Homo sapiens: one gene and its partner. The protein of the gene in region 1 interacts with the protein of each later gene in a pairwise test. Each region holds a gene or a part of one and is shown in the gene's direction. Other genes may lie near its edges. The genes, in order: ARF4 and APBA2.

Region 1 (8,101 bases):
CATTTTAATTAAAAAAAATCTGCTTGGACAATTTTTTTTCTCTTTTCATAAAAGTAATACATGATTTTTGGGTAAAAAAAAATTCCTATCAGTAGAGGAGCAAGGAAAATAATTATTCATACAGTATTCATACAAGCACATATAAAACCTATTAAAAGAAAACTTGGATTACCTACATGCTTTTGTATAATTTAAAATGATATAGTCATGATTTGTCTTGGATTTCTTCAATTCTTTTCTTTGTCAGTATTTTTGGATTTACTTTTTTTTTTTTTTTTTTTTTTTGAGACTGAGTTCCGCTCTTGTTGTCCAGGCTGTAGTGCAATGGCACGATCTCGGCTCACTGCAACATCCGCCTCCTGGGTTCAAGCGAGTCTCCTGCCTCAGCCTCCAGAGTATCTGGGATTATAGGCATATGCCACCACATCCAGCTAGTTTCTGTATTTTTAGTAGAGACGGGATTTTACCATGTTGGCCAGGCTGGTCTCAAACTCCTGGCCTCAGGTGATTCGCCCACCTCAGCCTCCCAAAGTACTGTGATTACAGGCATGAGCCACAGCGCCAGGCCTTACCTTGTTTTTAAATGACAATCTGAGGTCCAGTTGGACCTCCGGTGATAACTGGCAGGTACCATAGTTTTGTGTGTGTGCGTGTGTGTGTGTGTTTCTTAATCAGCGTCTCAGTTTCAATTCTGACTTGGCTTAATCATATTTGAACTTAAAGGTTAATTTTGGTTAACTTAAAAATCTGATGCTTTCAAGAGACAGCTTTGTTGGACCATTTAAAGATCCAGTTGTTTTTTGCCACCCCCCTTTGTTTTATATCTTGTTACTAAAGATGCCAAACTTTAATGTAGCTCCTTTTTATGTATTTTTTAGAATTATGTTTTCTGATTTTTTTGATAATGTTCCATGCTCAAAAAATAAAACACTTGTATAACAGTTGGTTTTTATTATTATGCTCATGAATGAGGGCTTGATGTGGGCTGATCACACTGACTAGTAGTTGGGAAGGAATAAACCTGTATCCGAGTACGAAGTGGGGAACAGGGTTTTACAGGACAAAGGAATAAAAGGCTTGAGTCTCCAAAAAGAACTTAAAGTTATTCTTGGTAGGGTACAGAGTAGAAAGGGTTGTTAAGAGGGTAGAAGGAATCAGAATTGCCTGTAGCCTTCGCTTCTGTTTTGGACTAACTGATAAAAGATAGACTTACTTGCATAGGAATGTAAATTAGATAAGTGAGATAATTTCAGCTCTTTTTTAACTTACTAGCATTGCTTTTATGTGCTAAGTCATGCTTTGATTTAAATATTAAGAAAGTGTCCTTGCTTAAATCAATACTTGATTGAATCGATACAAAAATCTGTGATAAGATAAACCCAGGCGGCCAGATATGATATCCTAAGAACAATGATAGATTCAATGAGGTTATTAGATGTTGATCTTTCATTTATGAGGGCTTTAGCAAACACTGCAGAATATTCAGGTTTTGAGAGATTCATACTTACAAGCATTTAATTTGTTCTTCACTGTCACCCTACAAGGAGGTATAGCCTCTTGTTCTAGTGTGGATTTTTTTTCACAAGCAAACACATTCCTCCCTACTTGTACTTCTGCCTCAACTGAATCATTTTAAGAATTTAGGCCGGACACAGTGGTTCACATCTGTAATCACAGCACTTTGAGAGGCTGAGGCGGGCAGATCACCCGAGGTCAGGAGTTCAAGACCAGCCTGGCCAACATGGTGAAACCCCGTCTCTACTAAAAATACAAATTAGCTGGGGTGTGGTGGCACGCACCTGTAATCCCAGTTACTCCGGAAGCTGAGGTAGGAGAATCGCTTGAACCTGGGAGATGGAGGTTGCAGTGAGCTGATATTGCACCATTGCACTTCAGCCTGGGTGACAGAGTGATACTCTGTCTCAAAAAAAAAAAAAAAGAATTTAGATATTACTTATATTGTAGATGAATGTGATAGGGTCTTTTATTATTATACTTTAAGTTCTAGGGTACATGTGCACAATGTGCAGGTTTGTTACATATGTATACATGTGCCATGTTGGTGTGCTGCACCCATTAACTCGTTGTTTACATTAGGTAATGTGATAGGGCCATTTTTATAACAGGTTAATCAGACTTTGGTTTTCATTTTGGCACATTTAATGTTGAAATGGATTTAAGCAGGGGTAAAATTGGCTTCATCTTCCTTTATTATCATTATAAGGTCACTAGGACATAGTTACATTAAGTTCATTAGAACATAGTTATACCACTAGGACATACTTATACCAGTGTATTTTTTACCCCTTAGCATCAAAATCTGTTACCCAAATTTTACTCTGTAAATAAGAGAAAATATTTTTACAAATCTTAAGAATTCTTTATTCACTTACATGTTGTCTGAATCAACTTCTAATTTGTGTTTTTAAAAATGGTAGTATGGCTGGGCACGGTGGCTCACGCTTGTAATCCCAGCACATTGGCAGGCCCAGGCTGGCAGATCACTTGAGGCCAGGAGTTTGAGACCAGCCTGGCCAACATGGTGAAACCCCGTCTCTACTAAAAATACAAAAATTAGCCGGGCGTGGTGGTGGGCGCCTGTAGTCCCAGCTACTTGGGAGGCTGAGGCAGGAGAATTGCTCGAACCCGGGAGGTGGAGGTTACAGTGAGCTGAGATCATGCCACTTCACTCCCGCCTGGACAACAGAGCGAGAATACGTCCCCCCGCTCCCCTGCCCCTCCACCCCCCAAAAAATGCTGGTAGTTCATAGAATTTAATTGGAAGAGATCTTAGATGATCTGATCCAGTCCCTTTATTTATGGCTAATTTCTCTGGTCTCAGTGTCCTAAAGTCACTCAACTAGTTTGTCGCAAAGCTAGAGATTAGAGCCTAAGTCAGCTACATACTTGTTACCTTTTACTAGTACATGCTGTCTCTCTTGGTCTAGAAAGCAGAATGGAAAGGCTTTCTGTAGGAAGTGTTGCCTTTGGGAATCAGAAATAAGGTCATTTCATTTCTAACTCATTTAGAAGTTGTCTTGAACAGTCAACTTCTAGTTTTGAACTATAAATTTATTGTAAAATTATTTCTTGGAGTGTGCTTTTGGTCTGGATTTTAAATCTATAATGTCTTCTTCTAGTTGGATTGGATGCTGCTGGCAAGACAACCATTCTGTATAAACTGAAGTTAGGGGAGATAGTCACCACCATTCCTACCATTGGTAAGAAAGTTTACAGATGACTTTATATCATGATATGTTGTAAAGTGAAATATATACAGTCTAGTTTTGAGATTGTCTTTTTGTTAAGCATGTTGATTATCTTAGAAGTACTTTTAAAACAGGCCGGGTGTGGTGGCTCATGCCTGTAATCCCAGCACTTTGGGAGGCCGAGGCGGGTGGATTGCTTGAGCCCAGGAGTTCAAGACCAGCCTGCATAACATAATGAGGCCTTGTCTCTGTTGATGTTTAGGCTTAAATATATTTTTTAAAAATAAAAAGAAGTACTTTAAAAACACTATTCTAAGAAAATTCCACAATAAAAGGTTTTATTTTCTTAATGACGCTGCACAGCGGTCATTTTTGTTTTTCTTTGTAGGTTTTAATGTGGAAACAGTAGAATATAAGAACATTTGTTTCACAGTATGGGATGTTGGTGGTCAAGATAGAATTAGGCCTCTCTGGAAGCATTACTTCCAGAATACCCAGGTAAGGGATACTGTATGTTTTTATAACTTTTCTTTGTGGGTTTCATGCTCTAAAGTTTTTATTAGTATCTAGTATTTACTTGGATATTGGTGTTTACTATGAGTTGGCATTTGTCTTATCACCACTTCCACATTCTTCAGTGGACTCTCACTTAGGCCTTGAAGGCTAACTTATATAGGGTGGAAGAGTTGTAAAGCAATTGCGGTAAGTGTTTGGAAGATGGGGTGGGTGCTGGTGTAGTTCACAAGAATGAATTAGGTCTCTTATCCGTAGTTCTTTGCTTTCCATCTTAGTTTAGAAAGTAAGGTCTGTATAAACTGTCATTGTAGTTTCTGATGAATGTAAGACAATTGATAGTCCTTTGTTTAGCCCAGTTACTTGTTTACTTTATTAAATACAGTAAAGTCAGTTCGCTGCATTGATTTGTAAGATATTTTTATATTGCCACATAGTATGTATATATAATACTGGCATGGAAGAGACTTTAGTGATCCTGTAGAACAGGAGTTCTCAAATTTGGGGGTGGCACGTAAGAATCACATGGGGACCTTTGAAAATCCCAAGACCTGGATCATCCCCTAGATGACTTGAATCAGAATATCAGGGGATATAATCCAGGTACAGTAGTGTTTCTTAAACTTTAATATGCATATCAATCACCTGGGTATTTGTTAAAAATACACATTGAGTCCATAGGTCCTAGCTAAGGCCTGAGATTCTGTATTTCTAGCAAGTTCTCGGGTTGTGCTGATACTACTGGTCTGGTATCTTACAGCACAGCACTATTGACATTTTGGGCTGGGTTATTCTTTGTTGTTGGGTATGGGGAGGGCTCTCTATGCATTGTAGGTTGTTTAGTGGCATCCTTGTCCTCTACCCACTAGATGGCAATAGCAGCTGCCCTCAAGTAGCAGCCAAAAATCTCTCCACACCTGCAAAATATCCCCTGGGGGCAAAATTGCTCCCTGCTGAGAACCACTGTTCTAATCTAACTCTCTTACATATGAGGAAACTGAAACTTGGAATGACTTACCCAAGATGGGAGAGTTTGTTCTCACTCTACCTTTGTTTAACCTGGTCCCACCTCGATTGTGTTTTCTACCACCCAAGGAATTTCTTGTCAGTTTTTTTTTATTACTTAATAATTTTTTTTAAGTGTGATATCACTGCCACTTTATATTTTTAAGACTTGCAATGTCATCTTGTTATCAGCCTCTTAAAACATTGCATACAAGTGGGGTTTATTGCCATCAGGTGGCAGTGAATACCCTAGGTGAGTGGCTGGGACAACCAGGTTTACATAGTATGTCATATTAAATAAGTGGTATACTTTTTTATTTAAAAACGAGAATGTTTAGGCCAGGCACGGTGGCTCATGCCTGTGATCCCAGCACTTTGGGAGGCTGAGGCGGGCGGATCACGAGGTCAGGAGTTCAAGACCAGCCTGACCAACACAGTGAAACCCCGTCTTTACTAAAAATACAAAAATTAGCCGGGCGTGGTGGCGCGCACCTGTGATCCCAGCTACTCAGGAGGCTGAGGCAGGAGAATCACTTGAACCCGGGAGGTGGAGGTTGTGATGAGCCGAGATCACACCATTGCACTCCAGCATGGGTGACAAAGCGAGACTCTGTCTCAAAAAAAAAAAAATAGTAGAATGTTTATGGTCATCAATATAGCTGTGACTAGAAAAGATACTTGATACAGAGGCACATGCTTTAAAAAGCTTCCTTATGGAAAATGTTAAATACAAGGTGAACATTCCTTATCCGAAATTCTTGGGACCAGAAACCACTGTTTCTGATCTCAGAATTTTGGGGGTTTTGGAATATTTGCATTGTACCCAGTTGAGCATTCTAAATCCAGAAATCCAAAATCCGATATACTCCAGGGAGTTTTTTCTTTGTTATGTTGGTGCTCGGGAAGTTTTGGATTTGGATTTTTGGATTAAGGAAACTCAATCTGTACACCTACAAATAGAATAGCATAATAAACTCACATGTATGTATTATGCAGCTTCAGTTACTAGGATATAAGCAGTGCTGTGTTGTTTCATACTCATCTCTAATGTGCTCTACCCTCTAGACAGTTTGTTTATTTTTTTTGAGATGGAGTTCTCGTCCTGTCACCCAGGCTATGGCGCAATCTTGGCTCACTGCAACCTCTGCCTCCTGGGTTCAAGCGATTCTCCTGCCTCAGCCTCCCAAGTAGCTGGGACTTCAGGCATGCGCCACCACACCTGGCTAATTTTGTATTTTTAGTAGAGACGGGGTTTCACCATGTTAGCCAGGCTGGTCTCGATCTCCTGACCTCATGTGATCCACCTGCCTGGGCTTCCCAAAGTGCTGGGATTACAGGCATGAGCTACTGCGCTTGGCCAATATATTTTGAAAGAGTTAGATATGAAGTAAAACCTTGCTAATCCTTAAGCCTAATAATTCTTGACCAAGGGTAACCCTGGGTTTATCCCTAGATTTGTTTAGAATGCTTTGTAATTTACTTTGCATTCTTAATTTGAAATTAGACCCAATTCTGGCCTCTTTGGACCATCTGAGAATTAAAAGTCTAAGTACTGCTTCCTAGGGAGTTCATGCTAGCTGGGGAAAGCTTTATGTGTTACCTGATAGAATCAAAGCTAAGCTCTTAGCTTGCATTCCCAGCATTACTGATCAGTTCTCCTAGCTATAAAATTTAAAAGAAACTATAGCTTTAACCATGTTTCTAACTTATACTAACAAACCATGGCACAGTGTGTAGTAAATTCCTCTTATAATTCCAACTAATTTGCCATTGTAAATAAGTAAATATTTGGCTTTTCAAATAATTTCATAGCAGCTGGGCTTATCTGTAGAATCCTAGCTTTTCTTCACTCTTGATTCTAGGCTGTTCCAGGAAGAAAATAATTAGGGATTAATACCTAAAATAATTCTCCTTCTCAATAATGTCACTTTGGGACTGATAGCATTATTTGCATTTTAAAACAAAGGCTGGGTGCAGTGGCTTATGCCTGTACTCTCAGCACTTTGGGAGGCTGAGGTGGGAGGATCGCTTGAGCTCAGGAGTTTGAGGCCAGCCTGGGGAACATAGTGAGACCCTGTCTTTACATTTAAAAAAAAAAAAAAAGAATAAAAATGGGAAGTTAGCAGTCAAAATAAAATTAGGTCCCTTTTAGGGGCATTACCTCTTGTAAAGGGTAGGTTTCAGGACCGGGTGCTATGGCTTATGCCTGAAACACCAACACTTTGGGAGGCCATGATACGAGGATCACTTGAGGCCAGTCCAGGCAACAGAGTGAAACCCTGTCTCTACAAAAAAAAATTAAAAAAAAATTACCTGGGCATGGTGGCATACTCCTGTAGTCCCAGCTACTTGAGAGGCTGAGGTGGGAGGATCACCTGAGCACAGGAGTTGGAGGCTGAAGTGAGCTACAGTTGCGCCTCTGTACTCCAGCCTGGGGGACAAAAGGAGACCTTGCCTCTTTTTTGAAAAAAAGAAGAAACAAAAAAATGGAAGGTTTGGTTCTAAAAAGGAGTAGCTTTTGAAATATGGAAAGGAGGAGACATATTTGCTAAATAAATGCCCATGATAAGCCAAGAACAATGATCTTTTATATCTCTGTGATTGCATTTAATCTTTAACAAGCTTATGAAGTTAGTATTTTTATTTTATTTAGACGAGGCATAGTCAAGGATTAGATAATATATATAACAAGTAGTATAAGATTTGAATTTGAGTCTGTCTTCCCACCACACTATATTGGCTCCCAAAGCATCAAACATTATTTTTTGTTTTTGAGATGGGGTCTCACTCTGTTACCCAGGCTAGAGTGCAGTGGCATGATCATGGCTCACTGTAGCTTCAGTCAACCTCCTGGGCTCATGTGATCCTCCCTTCTCAGCTTCCTAAGTAGCTAGGACTATAGACATGTGCCACCATGCCCTACTAAAATTTTAATTTTTTTCGTAGAGACAGGGTCTTACTCTGCCCAGGGTGATCTTGAACTCCTGACTTCATGTGATCCTCCCACCCCAGCCTCCCAAAGTGGTGGGATTAGAGGTGCCATGCCAGCCAAAAGTTTTCTCAAAGGATAGGATATTTAAAGTGATGGTTTTCCAGGTGGTATAGATGCAGTGTAAAATAAAATTTAAAAATTAAGTTATGGTTTCCAACAGAGATAAAGGAAATGGACTTACAATTTGCTAAAACAAAGGAAATTGTCATTTAATGGATGTAAAATAAGTGTTAGATGCTCCTGGAGAGCCCAGTACTGTGGTAATCCTGAGAGGTAAACAGAAAATGATGTAGGATGGGGCTGGGCGCGGTGGCTCACACCTGTAATCCCAGCACTTTGGGAGGCCAAAGCAGGCAGATCACCTGAGGTCAGGAGTTCAAGA
Region 2 (6,943 bases), on another chromosome or scaffold:
GGCCACTCGCCTCCTCCCAGGGCTCAGCACAGTCTCCTTTCTCCAGGATAAGAGGGCCCTGGGGTGGCGAAGGAGCTGCCTTGCGGTATGGAATCTGCCTCTCTCCACCCCCTTCTCTTCTAGTCCTAATTCTCCTTGGACATCCATTTTTCCGGTTTTTGTTTTCATTTAAAAAATAACTGTGGTAAAATATATCTGTAACTTAAAATCGAGCATCATAGCCATTTTGAAGTGCAGAGTTCTGTGGCAGTCAGTCCATCTGCATGTCAGGCAGCCATGGCCACTGCGCTCTCCTGCACGTCTTCCTCCTCCCCAACAGGAACTTTGTCCCCACTAAGCACCACCGCCCATTTCTCCTTCCCAGCCCCTGGCGGCCCCCCACTTCTACTTTGTCTCTGTGATTCTGACTACCCCAGGTACCTCATATCAGTGGCATCACACAGTGTTTGTTCGTGTGCCTGGCCTGTTTCATGCAGCATAGTGTCCCCGAGGTCTGTCCGTGTTGTAGCACACTTCAGACTCTCCCTCCTCTCCAGGGCTGAGTACTGTTTCCCTGCAGGCCTAGAGCACATTCTGTTTCTCCGCTAGTCCGTGCTGTCACCCTCGGCTGTTGTGAACACTGCTGCTGTGAACACGGGTGTGCACGGCGCCTGTTTTCCATTCTGTCCAGTCTCGTGGTCACAGGCGCTCCCAGGCCCTCCTGTCCATCTGTTTGGCGTCACTTTTAGGCTGGAATGGAAGCCCCCACCGCTGCACTCCAGCCTGGGTGACAGAATGAGACCCTGTCTCCAACAAAACCAGAACCAGTATATTTGGCACAAAATGCCCTTACGTCACTTGGCGGGGGGGGGATGTAGGAATAAAGTGACTCTTCCCTGTCGATGTAGACCATTTGGGCATCCGGCAAACAGAGCCTTCCCTTGACAGAACAGATGCCCCACCTTTCTGGTGGCCAGGGGACAGGCTGCCTCTCCTTTCCCGCCCGCCCATCAGCTAAGTGCCTGTCTTCCAGGATGGTAACCAGGCTGTGCCGTAGGAGGCCAGGTGGCAGTGGCCTTGGGCTGTGTCACCAGTCTCTAGCCTGACCACAAAGGGAGCGGCCCTGGGGGAGGTGCAGCTGGGGGACAGGTTCCACCGTGGGAGTCAGAAAACTTGGTGGTTCCCCACACACCATGGCATTAACTCTCTTGTTTTAAAGAAACATACTGCATATCATAAGGATCTCTGTCTGTGAGTCAGCGAATTGCACGTGCACGTATTCATCATGTGGCGCTTTTCCCTCTGCATGTCCCATCTTTGGGGACGTGGTGGAGCGCCTGTCGGGTGTGGCGGGAACACGTGTGCTGACCTGGCCATGTCTGCTTAGATCTGCAGCCTCATGAGAGGGGGCATTGCTGAGCGAGGGGGCGTCCGTGTGGGCCACCGCATCATCGAGATCAACGGGCAGAGCGTGGTGGCCACAGCCCACGAGAAGATAGTCCAAGCTCTGTCCAACTCGGTCGGAGAGGTAAGGAGGGACTTTGAGTGTGCCTCTGCATGCCGGTTCCCACGTGCTCCCGCCTGCCCTCCATGAGCCTCCCCCGCTCCAGAGGACACAGGGCATCTGAAGGTCAGCCAGGCTGTGTCTCCCATCGGGGCTGCTGTGACAAGGGTGAATGGAGCGGCAGGTGATGCGGAGCCATCCCGGTCTGGCTCTAACTGAGCAACCGGGAGGGCACAGGCTGCTGGGGGTGCTCCCTGGACACTACTTTTGGGACTGGACCTGTATGTCCAGTTCAGAAGCTCTGCAGGGCACACAGCTCTGGCCACCCTGGCAGGCTTGCCTCTCTGCCCTTGCTGGCCATCCCCTCCCACAGCCAGGCTGCTTGCCCTGTCCCACTTCACTGGCTGAACCCCCCACAGTCCAGTTCTTTCTGGCATCGCTTCCACGGCAGTGTGAGGATGGTGTGGGGGAGGTGCAGGTTTTCCTCCAGAGCTCACAAGGAGGCAGGATCATTGGGAGGGGGGATGGTGCTGGGGAGGTGGCACATACACCGGGGGAGGCCTGGCCAGTGCGCAGCGGGTGTGCGTGTGTGTGTGTGTGTAGTGTGAGCGAGTGTGGGTGTGTGCATGTGGATGTGTGAGAGCATGGGTGTGTGTGGGATGTGATGTATGAGTGTGGGTAAGTGTGGGTAGGTGTGGGAAATGAGTGTGTGCGTGCACGTGGGTGTATAGGGGTGCATGAGTGGATGGGTGTGGGTGTGTGGCTGTGTGAATGTACCTGAGTGTGCGTGTGGAGGAGTGTGTGTGTGTGGGTGAGTGTATGCGGATGTACGTGTGTGTGTGAGAGCATGGGGTGTGTAGGAGTGCGAGTGTGGGTGTGTGCAGGGGTGTGTGGCTGTGGGTGTGTGTGAGCATGGGGTGTCAAGCATGAGTGTGTATGTGTGCACGGCTGTGGCTGTGGGTCTGTGAGTGGGTGTGAGGCATGGGGTGTGAGGAGAGTGTGAGTGGGTGTGTCTGTGTGTGTGTAGGGGTGTGTGAAGGGGTGTTCAGCACAAAGGGGCTGCAGGCTCTCTGGGAAGCGTGGTGGCCGCACGAGGCGGGAGGCTGAGAGCTGAGGAGCCCGGCCTACAGAGGGGCCCGCTGGGGACCGGGCAGGGAATTTGGGTCTGGGGACAGCAGCAGCAGGCCGGGCCGTCTGTGGTGCTCCCCCTGGTGGCTCTGTGAGGCTGAGTGCGTGGCGACCATCCTTGCAGCCTGTGGGTGGGCGGGTGGGTGGAGGGGTCTCTAGTTCCTGTTCTTCGGATGAGGTCTCCAGGAGCCACATCGGGACACTGGTATTTTGTGCACTGCAGGGTCGGCTGGGAGCTGGGAGGCCTGTTTTCCCTGGACTGGTGGGGGCAGGGGTCTGGCTCAGGAGGAGGAGGGGCCAGGCGGACACCAGCCTCCCTTTGATGGCTTCAAAGAAAGGAAAAGCCAGTGTTCCCAAGTAGATGCTTTGAAGCGGCCGCCCCCACGGCCAGCAGCCCCACACCTGTGAGGAAATCCACCCGTGGAGGAGCGGGCGGGAGAACGGGGAAGAGGCAGGAGGCGGCCGGGGCGTTGGAATCCTTTCAGCCCTGCCGAGGTTATGGTGCCTGTTTCCAGCAGCTCTGAGCCCACGCGGAACATGAGTCGCTGATAAACAAGGCTTGCAGTTGCGAGGGGCCTCGGGGTGGGTTTCTGGTTGAGGAACGCCGGGGAATGGCTGATGGAGGAAGCCCCTGCCGGGAGCAGGAGCAGCGGAAACCTACATCGGCCACACAGATCCCGGCGGGGGAGGGAGGGCAACGCTCAGAAGCAGAGCTGCGCGATGTGCCTTTCTGGGCTGCTCAGCCCAGGGCCCGAGACCTGCTTGCCTGAGGAGGGGCAGATGCACGGCGGCTGCACCCCGTGGGGAGGCCAGCATGCCTGCGGCAGCTGACCCTGGCAGTGCGAGGGCCCCCCATCCGGAGGCCGCAGCCTAGCACAGTCCCGGGCAGGACAGGGGAGAGCGTCGTGCTCAGGAGAGGAGAAGTGGGCAGTAGAGCTCCCTTTCCGTTCTTGAAGCAGACGTTTAGAGTCTGCTCCTTCCCAGTGTCCGCAAAGAAGGATTACAAGGCGCGCCACCCACACGGTTGGTCTCCCTGGGGCGGTCTGAGGCCTTGCTTGTATACCCAGCTCCTTTGGAGTCAGGGCTCGAGGCCAGGCCCCAAAGGGTCATTTGCTCACCGATCCCCAAAGGCTAAGAACTTGAGGTGCCCTGGGCCCCAGCGAGCCTGTTCCCAGCCCCCAGCACACTTTCCTGGCCCGTGTGTGTTTTGTAAGAAGGGGTGTAGGCCGGGCGCGGTGGCTCAGGCCTGTAATCCCAGCACTTTGGGAGGCCGAGGCGGGCGTATCACGAGGTCGGGAGATTGAGACCATCCTGGCTAACACGGTGAAACCCCGTCTCTGCTAAAAAATACAAAAAAATTCGCTGGGTGTGGTGGCGGGCACCTGTAATCCCAGCTACTGAGGAGGCTGAGGCAGGAGAATGACATGAACCCGGGGGGCAGAGCTTGCAGTGAGCCGAGATTGCACCACTGCACTCCAGCCTGGGCGACAGAGCAAGACTCCGTCTCAAAAAAAAAAAAAAAAGAAGGGGTGCGTGTGTCTTCCCCCATTGAGCTCCTCCTCAGTGAAGCAGAGTGCATCCCTCGCAGTTTCTGCCGAGGCCTGGCCACCCCCAGCCAGCCCCAGTGGATGGGCAAACTGTTGTCACCACTAGAAGTCCAATTTCTCACCCCTCGGGTGTCAGCTGGACTGGAAGCAAAACTAGCACTCAACTGTATTGACTCCTCTGGAGCCAGGGGTGGGGACCTGGAGTCTCAGTCTGCTGCATCTGGAAGGCATCATAAGTGTCCCCAGGCCTGGGCAGGCTGGCCTTCCTCCTTCACTCTAGGAGATGGGCATTTGAAGCAGAACTCTGGGGGGTTTGCCTCTGTCCTTTGCTTTCACCTGATTGTGGGAGGGGAGGTGGGAGGGCAGCGGCTCAGCCTCCTGTTTCTGTCCGCAGATCCACATGAAGACCATGCCCGCCGCCATGTTCAGGCTCCTCACGGGTCAGGAGACCCCGCTGTACATCTAGGCCACCCCAGCCTGGCCACGCAGCCAGGACACCGGGCAGGGCCGCCCGGGCCCAGAGGAGCTGGGAGCCGGGCCGCAGACTTGACCCCGACGCCACAGCCCAGCCACGGACGCTGGCTCCCCAAAGGGTGTGCCCTCACCACCCACTTGATTTTTTTCATTTTGCCAAAAAGGGGTATGTCTTTATCAAAGGAGAGTCACAGAACAAATGTTTGTTTGTAAAGCGTTCCAAGTATTTTGCCACGTTCTGGACTGTCTTCTCCCTGCACAAGCCAGGGTGTGTCTCGGTAGCTGTGCGTGGTGTGGAGTGTGTGTCTTTCCTCCCTGAAGCTGTGCGGAGCGAACTGGCGCCTCCGAGGGACGCGGCTCCCGGGGCAGGGCAGCCGTCACCCCTGCCTCCCGCCCCCTTGGCTGGGACGTCTGGGGTCCTGTGGGGCCCCCACAATGGTCCCAAACAGCTGCCTCTGCCACTGACTGCAGGGACACGGGCAGCCTGGCTCCCAGGACACGACTTGTAATGAAAGTTTGGGGACATGTGATTGATTGATTGATTGTAAATAAAGGATGATGGCCACAACATGAAAACTCCATATTTATTTAGATGCTATTATTACTGTTTGGACTTTTATTTTGGCAGGCTTTTTTCCAGACTCTAGGGTTTTCCAATGTGACTAATGACCACACCTGCCTCTCCCGTCGTCTCTTCTGGGCACCCTCCCACCCGGCTGCATACCCGGGCAGGGCTCCCACAGAGACAAGGAGGGCACAGGTGTCTGCCCCCTCTTTAAAATCGATCTACACACATCCACGCACATGCGACCCCGAGGAAACGAAACCCACTCTAGAAAACGCGACCTTGGCCGCACCTAAAGCAGCCAGCCGTGAGTGCAGACCCCTTGGCCAGCGTGGCGCAGTGGCCCTGAGCAGTAGTGGCATGTGTGTAGATCAAGTCGGATCTAGTCCAGCTCGGTTCATTAGCGATCCATGTAATCTGACGTCATCTTGTCTCGAAGTCTCTTTTTTTGGCCCAGGCCTTGAAGAATACACTGTGACTTAAGAAGCCTTACCACGCAGTAACTAAAGCTTTAGGATGACTGTATTCGAGGAGTGCCGTGTGTTGCATGCAGCTACCCGTAGGAAGACTTCGCGCATATCACTAATAAACCTGAAGTCGTGATGAAAAGCCGTGTGTGTGACTGGTCTGTTACCTCAGCGGCGGGTGCCCGCCTGTCCTTTCATTCACAGCTTGGATGCGGCTCTGCAAATTCACTATGCGGTGGCAGCCACAGCTGCTCTGTGCTCCTCCTGGATCCTGAACCTTGGAAGCTGTCACTAATGAGTTCGGTGGGTGGGTGCTCTGGGCACCAGGTGTCAGCTGGGCAACGCCCCGCTGCAACTGGAGGTGCCAGCAATGCTACCAGGTCACGGGGTCAGCGCCAGGTTCTTGACCCACTTGCCCCAGCAGGGAGACACGTCCGCAGAGCACTCACTAATGGAATGAGGGAGCCAGGGAGCCTTGGGCTTCTTCAGATTTCAACGTAAATGGCCCCTGGGAAAGGTGTGCATGCGTGTGCGTGTGTAAAAGCCGGACCGCCCATCCCAGCACCCTGTCTGCACCTGTGGGTCCTTTGCAGCCTGTCTAGAGTGACAATTCTGGCAGCTCTGCCAGCACTTACCTTTCTTCATGGCCACCGTTCTGGTGTCACCTGGTGTGGGAAAGCCAGGTAGCAAGCACGGGCTTTGTTCAGAGGCGGTGGCCTGGGGTCCAGCTGGGTTAGGCTGTGGGTCTTGGATGGGCAGGAGCCCTCCTCTCTGGCCTGCCCACAGCAGCGTGAGCTCCTTGCTGTGGGCACTGACCACCTTCACGGCCCAGGATTCTTGGGGAACTGCAGAGTAAGGAGAAGACTTACTCTCACCTAGCCGCCCAGAGGGTGTGGGCCAAGGGCTTGCTCCAGCATGACCTTGGCCATCAGGGGCATATAAAAGAGACGGCCTTTCAAGGCGCACACCAGCTTTGTGCCTCCCTCTTCCCAGAAAGTATACATGGTAGAGGCAAAGAAAGCTGTTCCATAGGAGACTGTCACAGAGAGCTGCGTATATGCCGAAATGTATATGCACTCGCTCTGAATGAATATGCTTAAGAATGATGAGTTCATGTCCTTTGTAGGGACATGGATGAAATTGGAAACCATCATTCTCAGTAAACTATCGCAAGAACAAAAAACCAAACACCGCATATTCTCACTCATAGGTGGGAATTGAACAATGAGATCACATGGACACAGGAAGGGGAATATCACACTCTGGGGACTGTGGTGGG

What was found.
Region 2: the proteins of ARF4 (region 1) and APBA2 interact in a two-hybrid assay, tested with the Homo sapiens proteins (one study listed by BioGRID).

The regions. Positions count from the first base shown.
Region 1 is NC_000003.12:57,579,504-57,587,604, reverse strand, and holds part of ARF4 (ADP-ribosylation factor 4), read left to right. Parts: intron 1-3,140; coding exon 3,141-3,221; intron 3,222-3,597; coding exon 3,598-3,707; intron 3,708-8,101.
Region 2 is NC_000015.10:29,112,510-29,119,452, forward strand, and holds the end of APBA2 (amyloid-beta A4 precursor protein-binding family A member 2), read left to right. Parts: intron 1-1,366; coding exon 1,367-1,507; intron 1,508-4,552; coding exon 4,553-4,624; 3' UTR 4,625-5,806; downstream 5,807-6,943. UniProt on the Homo sapiens protein: Putative function in synaptic vesicle exocytosis by binding to STXBP1, an essential component of the synaptic vesicle exocytotic machinery. May modulate processing of the amyloid-beta precursor protein (APP) and hence formation of APP-beta.